Linked DNA regions of Homo sapiens: region 1 is linked to region 2. The links come from fine-mapping of genetic effects on gene expression. A gene starts in region 2. The other region holds a variant in brackets. All regions are shown on one strand. Distances are between the middles of the regions.

Region 1 (8,000 bases), 31 kb before region 2:
GAGCCTGGCTCCCAAAGCTCCCCCAGGTCTGAGGGCCAGAGCTGAGGGGAAGGTGGTAACCATAAATAAAAACTGCCCACCTGCTCGTCCGCATCCCTGGGGTCCGGCAGCATCAGCCCCCCTCCTCTGGCACCACAGTGCATCTCCCATCACTGTCCTGATCAACTGCGACGGGTCTGTGCATCTTGGGCAGCAGGCACGTTCCCTGAAGCAAGCTCCACACCCTCCTTCCTCATTGGGGTAACTCCAGCACTCAGCAGGGACTTACAAACACCTGGATTCATTAATTGTGTGTATGCGTGTCTACATGTGTGTGTTCCCAGCCATTTTCTGAGCACTTGACATGGATTCTTCATTCATCTACTCACAGCGCTCTGTAAGGCTTGTCATGATTCCACTTTACAGAGGAGAAAACCGAGGCACAGGGATGCTAGGTTATTTGTTCTTGGTGCCACAGCTGGGATGTGAACCCTGGCAGCCCAGTACCACAGCTGAGCAAATGAGGCCATGCCAGGGTCCCAGGGCTCCTCTGAGGCCAGCCTCCTCCCATGGGCAGCCAGGTCTCAGGACCCATCTGAGAGGGAACACATCACTGCCCTGCCCACGGCAAGAAGGGAGAGGGAAACAGATGCAAAGGGCTCCTCTCCCAGCAGAGCTTCCACAGGGAAGGGACCGTGTCTCACGAAGGTGGAACACAGGGGCCTCTCGGAAGCATCTGGGAAATTCTAGCCACCTTCTCCAGGAAGTCTCCTGGCTGCTCCCTGCCTGCCTGCTTACCACAGGGTATCAGGGCACTGCTGAGTCAGGACGGAGCCCAGGAAAGGAGAAGTGCTTTCAGGAAGGCACAACATGTGGGAAAACCCCAGGGAAAAGGCAGTGACCCCCTACCGAGAACAGGGCCCACAGAATGCCCCCGCCATAGCCCAAGTCCCAGCCTCTCACTGCTTGCACCCCTAAGAGTAGGCCCCGCTCCAATCCCGAGGTCCAGCTGAGGCCCGGCTTGGATGTCACCCACTGACTTGTCACCCACTGGACCACGTCCTCAATGGCGCCACCTCCAAGCCTTCACACAGTTTCATCCTCCTCTGCCCTCTCCCTCCCGTAGCCCACAGAAGCCCACCTCCACCTCAAAATGCAGCTCAGCCGGCCTCCTCCTCTAGGCAACCTCCAAGATTCTCCCACAGAGCTGCTCCCCACTCACCCCGCACTGCAGCTCCCTCTCCCCTCTACCCAAGGGGCATGTGAACCCACCTGCTTACCCACTATTCCCGAGAGACTAGGCACCCCGGGCAGCTAAGGGGTTGGTTCACCCCAGCCTGGGCCCTCAGCCTAAATCTATTTTATAGAATCAGAGAAAATACATGCAGCAGACCTCATGCCTGGGGGTTAGGTGACATGGTGGGTAGGCAAAATGCAGAATGGGTAAGAGGAGGGTGCAGCTTGTGCAGAAGTTGAGAGGCAGACCATGGACATCCCATCCTCATTGGGGTATCTCCAGCACTCAGCAGGGACTTACAAACACCTGGATTCATTAACTCTGTGTGTGCGTGTCTACGTGTATGTGTTCCCAGGCATTTTCTGAGCACTTGACATGGATTCTTCATTCATCTACTCACAGTGCTCTGTAAGGTAAGGCTCGTGATGATTCCACTTTACAGAGGAGGAAACCGAGGCACAGGGATGTTGGATTATTTGTTCTTGATGCCACAGCTGGTATTTGAACCCTGGCAGCCCAGCACCACAGCCGAGCAAACAAGGCCATGCCAGGGTCCCAGGGCTTCTCTGAGGCCAGTCTCCTCCCATGGGCCACCAGGTCTCAGGACTCATCTGAGAGGGAACACATCACTGCCCTGCCCAAGGTCACCCTCCTCTTACCCATGACCACATAATTCATTGTATAAACCACAAACACTTCTAAGAGTTAAAAGAGGCACTATTAATAACTATGTCAGGGCAGCAGGCATAAACAGGGCCTGTCCCACGTCAAATGAGATGTGTGGTTACTCAATTAACTAGAGACAGGGCTTGGAGCCAGGCAGACCTGGGCTTGAACTCAGCTCAACTCATTGGTTTGGGACCTTGAGCAGGTCCCTTCCTCTCCGAGCCTCAGTCTCCAGGCTTACTGATAATTCAGTAAAGGAGGGCCACTTGCACATGGCATCAACAGAACCTCTTCACCTTGAAGGAGACCCAGGCCCTACAGGCTGAGCCAGGAACCAGCTTCATAGCCTTAGCGGCCTCTAATGCCACCTCCTTCTCCTTCACCCCTACCCGTTCCTATCTTTCTGTCTATACCAATCTCTGGCCGAAAGAACCAGGTGTCACTGTGAGAGAAGGAAGGCCACAGAGTGGAGCAGTCTGCATATCTCAGGCTGACCCTGGACTCACCCCACTACTCACACTCCAGCCCTCCCTGACTGAGCTGCAGTCTATCAGTGCATACTTACAGGCCTTTAATACTCTGTTCCTTCCACCTGGAACACCCTCCCCTGCCTGGCCAACTCCTAGTCCTCCTATAAAAAGCCCAAATCATACATCCATCCTCCCCACTATCGCAGGCCTCCCCTCACATCTCAGGCTGATCTGGGGCCTCCCTGGGGCTCCCCACAATTCTGATCACTCAATATGGTCATATCAATGTGTGCTTCACTGAACTGCCTCAGAGGACTGAGGACCCAGACCTAACCCCATCCTAGAGTCACCACCTCCCCACAAGATGTCACACAGGTCTTGGAGGGACCTGGCCCAATCCCAGCCCCTGGACTCTCACCATCAGGGCTGCCGGCCCAGTGATCTGTGGACATCTGTGTCCCACCCTGATGTCTCCATTCCACAGGGGTAAACTGTCCCAGCTGCCCGCTTCCTCAATCATGCTCTGGACTCTCAGGGGCCCGGGCCTCAGTCCTATGCCTCCTGCTTCCTCTGTGGCTTCTTCCTTCCTCCTCCATCATGAGACCCAAAGGTCATCCCCTCCAGCACTCTCCTGGTTCTGCTCTGTTCACTTCTGCCTAGCCCCCAGCATAGACAGCCCTTCCTAGGGTCTCACTTGCTAGAATGGGATGTCCACGGTCTGCTTCTCTCAACTTCTGCACAAGCCGGGAGCCCCTAGGGCCAGTCCTCTCCATGCCGCCAGCAGTTCCCAGCACAGAAGGGGCTTTAGTAAGTGGGTACTGAATGACCACCACCCTACTCGCATCCTCATCACTGGAGAAGGTCTGCAGCTCCCCAAACTCTCCATACAGCAGTGCCCAGTTAACCTGGAGCCCATCCTCACAACCGCGCCTTCACCCAGCTCTCAGCACTTCTCCCTGGGACAACAGCTACCACTTGCTAAGCGCTCACTATGTGCCAAACATTCTGCTAGGGGCTTTTTTTCATATAATGACCTGGGATTATTAACTCCATTGTGCTCAGGGCATGCCTCCTCCTCCAGGAAGTCCATCAAACCGCTCCCTCCCTCCTCTAAGCCCACACAACCTGTTTGACCTTCCACCACCAGACCTACACTCAGCTTTCCCACAGGCCAGCCCTGCTGTCTGGGCAGGAGGTGGCAGAGGCCCCTTTCCCATGGCAGCTCTAAGCGCTTCCCAGGCCTGGCCCTGTGCTGGCTCCTGAGGGCAGCAGCAGGAGGAAGTTCATCCTCAGGGAGCTCACAGAAGTACTGAGCTCTTCCTGGGTCCAGCCCAGGCCTGGCCTGGCCTGGCAGAAAGAGCAGGTGCAGTTATCCGCTGGGCCCTATGGAAAAGATGAGCCAAGGGCACAGGGCAGGGCTGAAGAGTGCCGGGTGGGTGGACAGGACTTGGTTAGAGGTCTATGTCCCCAATAAGCCAAGCACAGGATTGTTGAATTCATTAGGGATCCACGGTAACTCAGGAAAGGGGAGACCAGCCCCCACACTCCATAAGCACCCACCACAGCACCAGTCCTGGGGAGGAGGGGTAAGCAGCACACCATCTCCCCATCACCCTGGTCTGGGGGTGAGAGGTTCAGAATCACAGCACCCTTGAACTTGACAGTGAAATAAGCCAAACTAAGCCTCCCCAACGAATCCCCAGAGGGGTGTAGGGAGGTGGGAGCAGAGAAGTAAGGTGATCAGCACCAGGCCCCCAAGGGGCAAGAACCCCAAAGAGGAGTATTCTGTGGGGCAGAGTCTGAGAAAGGCCCAGAAAACAGGCACCGTGGGCTCCTGGTGGACCCAGGAGAGGCGTATGGGGAGGTGGAGACCTAGAAAGCCCAGGGAAGAGGGAGGGATGAGACAAGGGGAGAAAAGGAAAAGGCAGGGGAAAAAGAGAAGAAGTGGGGAAAGTGAAATAAGACAAAACTCTAAGAGAAAAAAAGAGAAGGGGGAGGAGAGCAGCACAGAAAACCAGGCCAGAGGTGACAGACAGGGACTTCAGCCCTCCCAGGGCCTCCCTCCTACGTGCCCAACAGCAACAACAGCAACGGCGGCACCTCGCTTACCCTCAGACGCCTGCTGGGTCTTGGGGCTGAGGACTCCCACAGCTCCGGCCAGGCGGGCTGCGTATGCCCAAGAATGTCGTGTACCTGCCCGTGCAAGCCTGGGTCCCGCCTGGGCTGGTCTCGCAAACAGCCTGGCCCCTGGCCCCTGGGTGGGTCTGAGGCTGCGTTCTCTTGGAGGTTTTTGAGCCCAGGTATGGCTTTGCACCTGTGATTTATGTCTTTAAGTGTTTGTGAATCACTTCTCTACGTGCGTGTGTGTTTGTTTCTGTGTATAACTGTGGATCTGTCCAGGAGGAAAGGACAGAGAGAGAGAGAGAGAGAGAAAGACAGAGGGAGAGAGAGAGAGAGTGTGTGTGAGTGTGTGTGACTCTGTGTGTCTGTGTGTATGTGTGTGTGTATGTCTGCACCCAGCTCTGGTCTCCCGGAGGCTTCCTGCTTTGTGTCTCCCCCACCTCCTGCAGCCG[T/C]GGCCAACACACACACTTCCTGAAAACACTGAGAAAGCGAAAAGTCACCCAGAATCCCCCGGGGCAGACACTTCCTCCCCGCCCCCAGGCTGCACCCCCACCCAAGCTGGGAAGAGACAACCAACAGTGTCCACTGATCTTGCAGGCCCTCACAGGGTGGATGCCCAGGAAGTCCTGACTGACAAGCCCTGGCGGTGGCCTCTCCACCACTCCACCCGCATAAGGAGACAGAGAGGCTAGGAAAGAGGCTCTCTGAAGGGCGCAAGTTCTGCCCTGGCAACAAGTGATCAGCCTCCAGGAAGACCAGGGATTGGCTGGACTGCAGGGCAGTCAAGGGCACAGGAGGGAAGCCTTGGCAGTGTGGCTCCAGCTGGGCAGCTGCCTTCTGGGCACACACTCCTTCTTCCTGAGGTGCCTCCAGGCATCCAGGTATCAGAGGGGGACACCAAAGGCCAGAGCAAGCTGGGAGGGGATCTGCGGCATGACCCTGGAACCTCACATCAGAAACGACCCCTCTGCCACCCTCAGGGAAGCCAGTTCACAGGGCTCATGTCTGCGGCATTTAAGAGCTGAGTAGACCTGACCTGAAGCCAGGAGGCAGGGTCTGGGCACCGGCTTCCCTTCTGCAGGGCTGGGTGACTCTGGGCAAGTTTCTCAGCATCTCTGGGCTCCTCAGCAAGCACCCCACCACGAGTTTAAATTAATGGTAGGGTGCCGAGTGCAGTGGCTCACACCTGTAATCCCAGTGCTTTGGGAGGTCGAGGCAGGAGCATTGCTTGAGCCCAGGAGTTCAAGACCAGCATGGGCAACAAAGGAATACCTCGTCTTTACAAAAGATTTAAAAATTAGCCAGGTGTGGTAGCACACACTTGTAGTCCCAGCTACTTGGGAGGCTGAGGTGGGAGGATTGCTTGAGCCCAGGAGTTCGAGGCTACAGTGAGCTATCATGGCACCACTGCACTCCAGCCTGGGCAACAGAGAGAGACTTAGTCTCTATTAATAATAATGATGATAATAATAATAATAATAGCAGGGGGTGCAGACTCTGGGGGTGATGTAGAGTCCCCCTAGGCCAGGCAGAATCATGAGCCTGGTTCTGAGAGTCCTGGGCCATGCCAAGGCCAGGAGGAGGGAACTCCATCCTTGCTTGTTTTCTGATTTGCCTAAACCTTGGTCTGTGGCCTACAATCCTATCACAGCCTCGTTCTTCCCACCTGTCTCCTCTGAAGACCTCTCCCTTCCTAAAATATCTGGGATGACGTAGGTTGGGTAGTAGGATGGGGGACAGGGAGCTGGGGCGGTGAGCTCAGGGCCCTATGGCCCAGCTGTGCTGAGGGCACTCACTGGGTGCTGAGTCACATGCGTGTTTACCCACATGCACCCCAAGCTCAGCACGTGCCAGTACACAAGCTCACGTTGGCAATCATTTACTCACCCACACGATATACTTCCCAAGGGCCTATTAGGCATCCAGCACTGTTCTAGATGTTGGGGATTCTGCAGCAAACAAAATCGACTAGGATCCTGGCCCCAGTGGAGCTGCCATCCTAATGGGCTCTCCCTCTTGGCAGCACATGTACACACACGTGCACACACTGGCTCAAGCCTGACAGTGCACAAATAACACAAATGTCATGTTCTGCTCAAACAGCACGTGCACACTCGCGGATGTACTCACACACTGTTGGGGTCTCCACCACAGCAGTAATTGAGCACAAAGGTCCTGATAAACTCACATACACACCACTCCATGTCACCACTGAAACTGCACAAATCCCTACATGCTTCTACATCTTAGTAGCACACACTCTCAGAACCTGTCTGAATGTGTAAATGCACAGACATTCTACTACCCTGACAGCTTGTACTACCACCCACACCCATCTGTATGGGTGCACACACAGACTGGCCCAGACATGCCTCACACTGACTCGAGACACTGAGAGTACACACATGCACACGCATCCACCCCCAAGCTCCACTGGGGAGCCTGGAGATGACCGGCCTCAGCCACCACATGACCTTGTGTGAAAGGCCCTAAGGTTGAGAGAGTGAGTTCCCCATCATGAGGGGTTGCAAGCAGGGGTAGGAAGGCCATGTCATGAGACACTGTGATGGGACTCCCACAAGGCGGGGGTGGGCAGGAGCAGTGTTCCTCTCTACATGCCATGGAGCCTGGGGATCACAGGAAGGGACTGAGAGCGGACAAGGTGGCCAGTCAGGGTCCATGTTGGCCCCCACCCTGATCACTACAGCACTCAGTCTTGGCCTGGTATACACACATGAGGCTCCATCTGCTGTGAGTTTTTCCTACCACAGGGCTTTGAAGACCATACACTCTCTGAGTTGAGTGTGTACAAAGCTGAAGACTGCATATGCCCATGACTCCAACTGCCAAAGACCCCAGGACACAGGAAGCCAGGCTTGGTAGCTTACCCACTACCATACTCTGCCGTAAGGAATAGTCCCAAATTGCAGGAAATACTTTTCTTCCAATTCTCTTAGCACAGAACAGATTTTGGGTACTCAAACTACAAGGGGCTAGACCTTTTCCCGACCATGGCGCCTGGCCTCCTCCTCATGTTGCCTAAATGGCTATGTTCAGACAGGCTCTGAGAGTAGGCATTGGTACCCTGGAGCCCTGGGGTGTGGACAGGACTTCCTCCTACCCAGCAAGCCTCCTGAACTCAGATGTCAGTGCCAGGAGGGCCCAGAAGTCTATGGAGGACCACAGAGGGCACCTGATGGGGAAACAGGCCCAGAGAAGCAGGTCCTCATCAGAGTCACAAAGCTAGCTGGGCCCGACCCAGGCATCCTGCCTCCCAAGCAGGAACCCAGGCCTCCACTGCCCGTCCGGGAGTCACAGGAAGGGCCTGAGAGGGGACCTGGCCAGGGCCCTGCTTCTTCCCTTTGTTCACCCACTTCCAACCCCAGAGACAGACAGACAGACTTTCTCTTCTCTATCCTCTTCTCTCTTCTAACCTCTCTCTCTCTCTCTCTCTCTCTTTTTCTCTCTCTCTCTCCCCCCCACAAGCTGATGGGGTTGAAATAGAAAACGCTCCTGCATGCAGAAGA
Region 2 (8,508 bases):
TGTCACCTGACCAGGTGGCCCTCTAGTCTCTGCCTATCACTGACTAGGCATTCCCAGGGTAGGACTGGGTTTAGATCTCCTCTGTCTGCAATGCCTCCCAGTGCTTGTGGTTTTCACTGTGAAGCAATGGAAATGTAGATTCCCAGCTATTCTATGTAATGGATGATCTTGGACAAATCACTTAACTTCTTGGGACCTCAGTTTCCTCATGTGGAAAATGGGAATGGTGCCTACCTCAGAAGACTATTTTGAGGATTAAATGAATTCAGTATATAAAGTGCTTAGCACACTGCCTGGCACATAGTCAGCTTCCAAGAAACAATAGCTACTGCTACTATTATTACTACTATTAAATAATGATTTGTTGACTGGGCCCAGTGGCTCACACCTGTAATCCCAGCACTTTGGGAGGCCAAGGCGGGCGGATCACGAGGTCAGGAGTTCAAGATCATCCTGGCCAACATGGTGAAACCCCGTCTCTACTAAAAATACAAAAATTAGCTGGGTATGGTGGCGCGTGCCTGTAATCCCAGCTACTCGGGAGGCTGAGGCAGGAGAATCGCTTGAACCCGGGAGGCGGAGGTTGCAGTGAGCCGAGATCATGCCACCACACTTGAGCCTGGGCTACAGAGCAAGACTCCATCTCAAAAAAAAAAAAAATGATTTGTTATTGAACTGGTCACTTAACTCCACGTCCCCTCCCAGCCACTCTTTGACTGTCCCAGTGGCCTAGGACAGATAACCTAACTATGGGACAGGCTCTTCCCCTCTGTACTACGGCCCAAGGATGAGAAAAAGAGACATTCCACAGGAAGACCATGTGGAACACAATCCATGCATTGCCCCCCACCATCTTTCACATCTGGGGTCATCTGCCTCCAGGTGGGACTGTCCTCCTCAGATCCCTGGTTGGAATGCACATACAGTCTGGGGGCCTGGCCAGGGGTAGGGGAAGGTGGAAAAAATGTTATCTCTGATCAGAGCTGGGGACACTGGGGTTGATTCAGCGGCAGCCTCTGAGTTTTGTGGGGCATGCACATTGGATGGGGATGTCTCCCCACCCACCAAATCCTCATGCTGTTCAGAACCCTGGAGTGGCCACCCTTAGCACAGAACTCCTTTCTAAAACATAACACCTCTCTGCACAGGGCTGTGGAGGGTGCTGACTCTAACCTGCCCAAGACCAGAGAAAGAAATGAGAAGAGCTGCCCGAGGGACTGGACTCTGCTCCAGAGCGGGGACTGGGTCAGCTTAGCTGGGGTCACACACTGTTCAAGGCTGCCTCGGTCACCACCCGGGGAAAGCACCTCACTCAGCCCTGGGAGGTGCTCAAAGAGTAAGATCAAAGTGAAGTCAGACAAAGGAGGCAATGAACACCTGGGTCCTGACCCTGTCTCTCTACCACCCTCCCAATGTATTCTTACACAAGTTACTTAGCCTCTCTGTGCCTCAGTTTCCTTATCTGTAGAATGTCACCTAATTTCTTGGGTTATTGGCAGGGTGGAATTGGTTAATATGGATAAAACTTTACAACAGTGCTATAGGCATGTTTGCTGACCTCATTCTCACTGATGTTATTACTCAGCTTTCTCTAAGGCTGTTACTTCCACTATGATATTGGAGGGTGATGGTCGTCTTATGCTCTTATGCAATTATGTAAATCATTAGATGACAAATGTGCAGTGTCCAGCACACAGCAGGTACTCAACAAAGAATGTTCCCTCTCCCAGCCGGGAGTGGTGGCTCACACCTGTAACCCCAGCAGTTTGGGAGGCTGAGGCGGGCAGATCACGAGGTCAGGAGATTGAGACCATCCTGGCTAACAAGGTGAAACCCCGTCTCTACTAAAAATACAAAAATTAGCCAGGTGTGGTGGCGGGCGCCTGTAGTCCCAGCTACTCAGGAGGCTGAGGCAGGAGAATGGCATGAACCCAGAAGGTGGAGCCAAGATTGTGCCACTGCACTCCAGCCTGGGCAACAGAGCAAGACTCCGTCTCAAAAAAAAAAAAAAAGTTCCCTCTCCCTCTCTCCCCTTTCCCCCAGAGAGGCCAGACTAGGAGACAGAACCTGTCCTGACCCCCACCAGGGGTCTCTGTGTGATCCTACCCTCATCTCTAGCTCTTGGCCTCAGTTTCCCCATCTGTGAAAGAAGCTTTTAGGCCAAATGGTCTCTAAGTGTCCATGGCCATATCTGCTCCAGCCTGTCCCCCACCCTTGTTCCCTCCTTCCTTCCCCATTTCCTACTGCATCCCCTCCTGATGTGACAGAACCCTTGGGAGCCTGAAGCGGGGTAGAGGGGACAGCTGGTGAACAAGAATCACCAGCCCTCAAGGAGCCCAGGGCCCGGTCCAGGCCCCCAAGGGTTAAGACCTAGAGTGAGGGGCGGGGGGCCAGGGTCAGCGCTGGACAGGCGGGCCTGGAGCCCAGGGCCTGCCTCCCCTCCCCCTACCCTGGGAACAGAGGCCACTTGTTTGGGCAGTGGCGGGTGGCTTTGAGCTCAGCCAAGGGAGAGTTGGGTGGGAAGGAGAGAGGGCTCCGGAAAATGGAAGGGACTCCCCACCTCCAGCCGATGCCCTAGGCCTGGTCCACCACTAGCCCCCGATACTCTCAGACACCCCCCCAACCCCTCTAAACTGACCCCTTCCCCTGGGTTCTCTCTTTCTTTCATTCAAACTCTCAATGCTGGAGACAGGACTTAGCAGATAGGCCTATTGCCCCAGCATCTTAGCAGATAGGCCTGACTATTGCCCCAGCACCGTCTCTCTTTGGGGCATGAGGCCAGGGCTGATCACTCCATCCTGCAGATGGGGAAATGGAGGCTCTGAGGAATTTGGGGACTTGTAGAGTCACATAGTGATTGGTGGCTGCACAAGGACTCGGGGCCCCAGGTCCCATGATCCCCATGGCTCTGCAGGCCCCATCCCCACAGAGCTCCAAGGAGACCCTTCCTAAGCTGTGCCATTACACAAGACTGAAGGCTGGGCAGGAAGGAGGGGCAACAGCAGCCCATCTCTGAAACCTGAAGTCCCAAAGGACCTGGGGATTTGAATGGGGAGGAAGCTTCTAGAGGGTTGGGAGGAGGATTAACAATCTGTACAAAAAGCTGAGGCTGGATGTGTGAAGCATGGCTGGAGCCCAGGTGGTGGGGGTATAAAGCTGGGGTTGAGTAGGAGGCTTGAATGCAAAACAAAACCTGGGGGCCATCAGGGCTCTGGTGGCCTCTGCCCCCTCCACCTCATCAGTCACCGGTACTCTGCCTGGGACACCCCCTTCCTAAACTACTCCAATATGCAAGTAGCCAATGGGGAGGCAAGGTCCCCAGGCCCAGTCCTGACAATCCCCAGCCAGGAATGGGACACAGGATGAGTTCTCTCTACACCTCTGCCAGCCACACCCACCTTTCTGCCATTCCTCAGACACACCATCCAAATTCCTGACTTTGCACAAGCTACGCCCTCGCCTTTGGAGGGTCCTTATCCTTGTAAATTGCCACTTAACTGCCAAGCCCATTCCAGTCATCCCCTCCCCTGGGGCCTGCACCTGTCCACACCTGTCTTCAAGGCTCTGCTGGGCTCCTTCTACCCTGTGATGATCTTGCTGGGCAGTCTCTCCCAGCCTGGCCTCTGGGGACTCTCCGCGAACAGGTATCATGAGTGCCTCAGTCTGGGACCCTGGGACCCACCAAAGAGTCAAATCCTTCCGAGTACCCCCAGGTATCTGGCCCTGAAGCACCCCCCTCCCACCTATCTGGGATCAGGGAAGGCTCCCCAGGATATGGGATGTGGGGGAAGGGACGGTATATAGCAGAAACCACAGCGTGATGGCTTCTGGCCAGATTCCCCCCCTCCCCGCCGGCCCTGCACCAAACACCCATCCCCTGCCCCCAGGCTGCACCCTAAGCCTGCTCTCTCCAGGCCCAACCACCCCACTCCCAGCGTGACCCCATTCCCTGAGCACATACTTTCTTTCACCAGCAACTGGGCCAGGTAGGGGCTCTGGGGAAGCCATGCCCCATTTACTGGTGGGGAATTGAGATGCAGAGACCGGAAGTAGCCTGCCCAAGGTCACTGGAGCCCCAGGCCCAGGGCATAGGGTCGTACAGATCTCCAGAAATGTAAAGGTCTCAGCGGCCAACGAGGTGGGAGCCTTCACTTCACAGATGGGAACCCCAAGGCGCCCGAGGGCGGCTGACTCCAGAGACCCTTCACGCCAAAGGGCTACGGGCTGGAAGCCCCGGGTCCCGCTGGTTCACCCCCCTTCCCTACCGTCTCTGGCCCGCTGGCTTATCCTCAAGAGGCGACCCCCCCATCACGCCCAAAAAGGTAAACAGACAAGATGACCCGGGGAAGCAGAAGCAGCGCGCGGCCTCGGCGTTCCTTTCTGCAGAATGGGGAAACTGCAGGCCAATGTGGCGAGGGGCCTGCAGACGGGGAGGCTCCGGCAGCCGCACTGACCTGTTTTGAGTAAAGACTCCACGCGGGGACCAGGCGTACCGGCGCCGCCACCGACTTACACCGCCACCGCCAAATTGCAGCAAGGGGCCGGGCGCGCCCACCCCCCCGGGCGCTTCCGCCCGCCCCACGTGACTCCCGGGGAGGGGAAGGTGGGGCTGGGGCAGGGCAGGGCAGGGCCCCGCCCCCTCATCGGCCCCTCCCCCCGCCTAGTCACGGTCCTGGAGTTGGTTGGCCTGGCCCGCCCGCCGGACCCGTCGGTCTGTGTCTCTCTCCTGCCCCTCTAGCTGCTTGCGGGTCTTCCGACTGTCTCCTGAGGCTCAGGTCTAACCCCCGCCACCTCGCCCGCTGAGTCCACCTCTCCCTGAGTCTCCCTGCTCTCGCCACCCCTCTTCTGGTGAGTCTGCCCTGACATACACCCCACCCACAAGAGGGCCACACCCCCAGGGGGATAGGAGGCAGTTGAAGGCCGTCAGTGGTGCCTGACCACCTCCTCTAGGAAATCCTTCCTCCACCACATTCTTCAAGGGTATCTCACTTCCCTCCCTGGGTGCCCACAGGCAGGGTTGTGGGGAAGCTACCCACCCAGCCACACCTCCCAAGGATCCCTCAGCGGAAGGCTGCAGCCTGAGGTTCCAGCACCCACACCTAGAGAACAGGAGATTCCCACCCATCCTCCCAGCACATACACAGATGAGGGTACCAAGCTTGGCAGACATTTCTGGGTCCTGTGTCCAGAACACCTCCGGGGCCAGCCACGCCAGAGACCTTCCCTGGGCTTCAATTTCTTTATATGCACAAAGGGTATATTTGGAAGAACAGATCTCACATTGCGGGGGATGAGGGTTTACCCCCTGAGAAGAGGAAAGTGTCATTAATTGGAGCACCTACTGCATGCTAGTCCCAGTGCTGGGCAATTTATTCCTTTTATCTCAATCCTTACATTCTGCTTGATGGCAAAAATTATCATCCCAGGTTATGGGTTAGGAAATAAGGCTCCAAGAAGTCTGAGGGCTTGCCCAAAGTTACAAAGCCAGTGTTGGGCAAAGCTGGGAAGCAACCCATTTTTATGAGTTCTAGAATCTCCTGCCTGCCCCCCACTGGCCATTCACCCTGTCCCTCTGGGAAAGAGTTGACTGAGTAGACCGTGTCTTCTGGTGGTAGGGCTAAGGCAAAGGAGCTTTCCGGGAGGGGAGAACAGGGCCAGACCTTGCGGAGAACTTCCGGGCCCCAAGTTCATATGGGGTCAAAAACACTGCAGAGGAGCAGAGCATAGGCCCCTCCTCTGGTCCTGGCAGCAGGGGTGTCCCTTGGGCAGCAGAGGGCACCTGGGGGCCACAGATCACAGGGGAGGCCCAGGCGTCCCTCTAGACTTCAGACCAGCGAGGTGCAGCACAGGGTGAGAAGGCTGGCATCTGACCACTGGCAAGGGGATAGGGGGTCTGGGGACCCTACCATTTCTGTTAACACAGTCCTGAGGTCTTCAAAATGACCTAGGGAGGGCGTGAATCACCAAGCCTGGTCCCCACCAACTGCACTGGAATCTGAGGCCCCTCACCTGCACCCTTGACCTCCCTCCAGGGTATGCTGCCCCAGCCTCAGCTCTGAGACCCACAGCCCTGTGGCTTGAGACCCACGGACCCCTCCACCTCCCTTCTGGGATGACAGGAGTGTCAGACCCCAGTCCATAGGTTGGACCCAAAGGGCCTTGGGCCGAAGGACACAGAGTAGAACCTCACCCTCTGACTCCTGACCCAGGGTCTCTGTCAAGGCCTGCTCCTTCCCTTAGAGCAGAGGTCCCCAACCCCTGGGCCACAGACTGGTACTGGTCCTGTCAGGAACCTGTTAGGAACCAGGCTGCACAGCAGGAAGTGAGCAGAGGCTGAGCTAGCATTACCGCCTCCTGTCAGATCTGCAGCAGCATTGGATTCTCATAGGAGGGAGAACCCTATTGTGAACTGCGCATGCGAGGGATCTAGGTTGTGCGCTCCTTATCAAAATCTAATGATAAATGTGATGCACTTGAATCATCCCAAAACCAATCCTTCCCCAATCCTGATCCATGGAAAATTTGTCTTGCACAAAACCAGTCCCTGGTGCCAAAAAGGTTGGGGACCGCTGCCTTAAAGCAGTGAAAAAGAAAGCAAATAGCCTGGCGTGAATGCCAAAATGACCGCTCAACAAGGACAGCTGGATAGATACGGGCAGAGAATGGAACAGAGTATGGACAGAAGGGGGGCAGTGATAAACCCCGTCTCCTCCCCGCTACACAATGGGAAATGAGGAGATGCTGGAAGGATCAACGGCCGGATGATCAACAACCTTAACAAAATTAAGGGCAGACGCAGGGGACCGCGGCAGCGGCCATGAGGCAGGTGGGAAGCAGGCACAGTGATGAGCCGGCTGAGGCTGTGGGATCGTTTATTGGGGCTCTGTCCAGCCAGGCTGCAGCACCCGCCTGGGCCTGGCCCGGTGCCACCAGGTGCCGGGTGGGGGAGGGGAGAAAGTGCAGGAGCGGCCGCCGCCCCAGGGCTCGCCCGGTCCTGTCTCCGTCCCTGAAGCGGTGCGGCGCTCAGGTGAGCGAGGTGTCGTCGTCGCTGCCCTCGCCGCCCGCGCCGCCCATCCGCTCCTCTCTGCTCTCGGCCACCGCGCTCTCGTCGATGTTCTCCAGTGAGTCCGCATGCTGCACCGACAGCTCCGACAGCGCCAGGCTCGGCAACGGGCTCTGCTCCGGGTGCAGCCACGGCTTGAAGTGAGGCAGGTGCTTCTGTTTCCACTCGGGGTACTTGAGGCACGCCTTGTACATCTTCTTCATGGCCTGTGGGCCCGCCGCCCCGCCGGGTCAGGGGGTGGCTAGGGGGCAGGTCTTCTCCACACCCCCCTCCAGCGGCTCAGCCCCCAGCATCCTGACTGGCTCCCTTTCAAAACTTCACTCCTCAGCCCTACTTGCCCTCCCTGGGCCCTAGGCTCCATTCTCCATTCTTTTTTTTTTTTTTTTTTTTTTGAGACGGAATCTCACTGTGTGGCCCAGGCTGGAGTGCAGTGGCATGATATCGGCTCACTGCAACCTCTGCCTTCCAGGTTCAAGTGATTCTCCTGCCTTAGCCTCCCGAGTAGCTGGGATTACAGGCACCCACCATCACACTCAGCTAATTTTTGTATTTTTAGTAGAGACAGGGTTTCACCATGTTGGCCAGGCTGGTCTTGAACTCCCGACCTCAGGTAATCCACCTGCCAAGGCCTCCCAAAGTGCTGGGATTACAGGCATGAGCCACCACGCCTGGCCCTCAGGCTCCAGGCTTGACTCCACCCACCTCATTCCATAGTCCTCTTTCCAGTCTTCAACACCCCTCCCCAAAATCCCAAGGCCACTCACCTTGGGAGCCAGGAACTGAGAAGATTTATTCACCACCCACTTGGGTAAGGAGCCTGTGAGGGCAGGGAAGGGAGGAAGCAGCCTCAGGGACCCAGCCCCTCCGCCCCTGACAAAAGCCCCACCCTCTGCCCAGAGCTTCCAGGGAGGCCACTGTCTTCCCCATGAGGAGGAGGTGTGTGAGGCAAGTCCTACAAGCCTTTACCCTCACTCCCTTCCACCTCAGACCGAAGTCCTCAGGCTTAGCTCTGTCCCCCACTTTCCCTCTGCCCAGCCTCAAAGATTACGTGGAAGAAAACCACAGGGTCCTAGGTAAGCACAGGCTATACATGGGTGGAAACTCTGACCCACCCTGCTGCACCTGCTGCCTCACTCAATCACACTGACATCCCTTCTCAACCTAACCTCCCTCCCAGGAATGCCCCTGACGCTCAGCCCCTCCCCTGCCTGTCCTTCCAAGTCCTCCCCTGACCACACAGGCCTCTGGCTGAGCACCCCAGCCTGGCCTGACCTGGAATCCACTGCCCAGCTCTCCACCCTATCTCATTCCCAAGTGTCCACTCCACCTCTGACACCCAACACAATGAGGTGCCGGGGGAGTGCTAGGCCTGGACCACTGTGCGCTCTGGGGCTTGAAGCATTTCCAGGCAAGGATGCTCAAGGCTTCCCCATCCTCTAGTCATT

What was found.
Region 1: its variant is fine-mapped to the expression of ARAP1 in blood mononuclear cells (TOPMed, PIP above 0.99).

Annotation. Positions count from the first base shown.
Region 1 is chr11:72,717,389-72,725,388 of GRCh38, forward strand. The region is part of intron 3 of ARAP1 (ArfGAP with RhoGAP domain, ankyrin repeat and PH domain 1); the gene reads right to left. Among named protein-coding and RNA genes, the nearest start is that of ARAP1-AS2, 21 kb to the left of the region's middle. RefSeq lists enhancers at 1-236, 541-1,041, 2,126-2,195, 4,909-4,978 and a silencer at 1,816-1,895. The variant T/C (reference allele first, on the strand shown) is at 4,926.
Region 2 is chr11:72,747,874-72,756,381 of GRCh38, forward strand. It overlaps ARAP1 (ArfGAP with RhoGAP domain, ankyrin repeat and PH domain 1), which reads right to left and starts at 4,535. Exons shown (of 35, transcript NM_001040118.3): 1 at 4,455-4,535. It overlaps STARD10 (StAR related lipid transfer domain containing 10), which reads right to left. Exons shown (of 7, transcript NM_006645.3): 6 at 7,828-7,880; 7 at 6,856-7,269. The coding sequence ends at 7,024. RefSeq lists enhancers at 1,397-1,556, 4,216-4,335, 4,946-5,175 and a silencer at 4,386-4,675.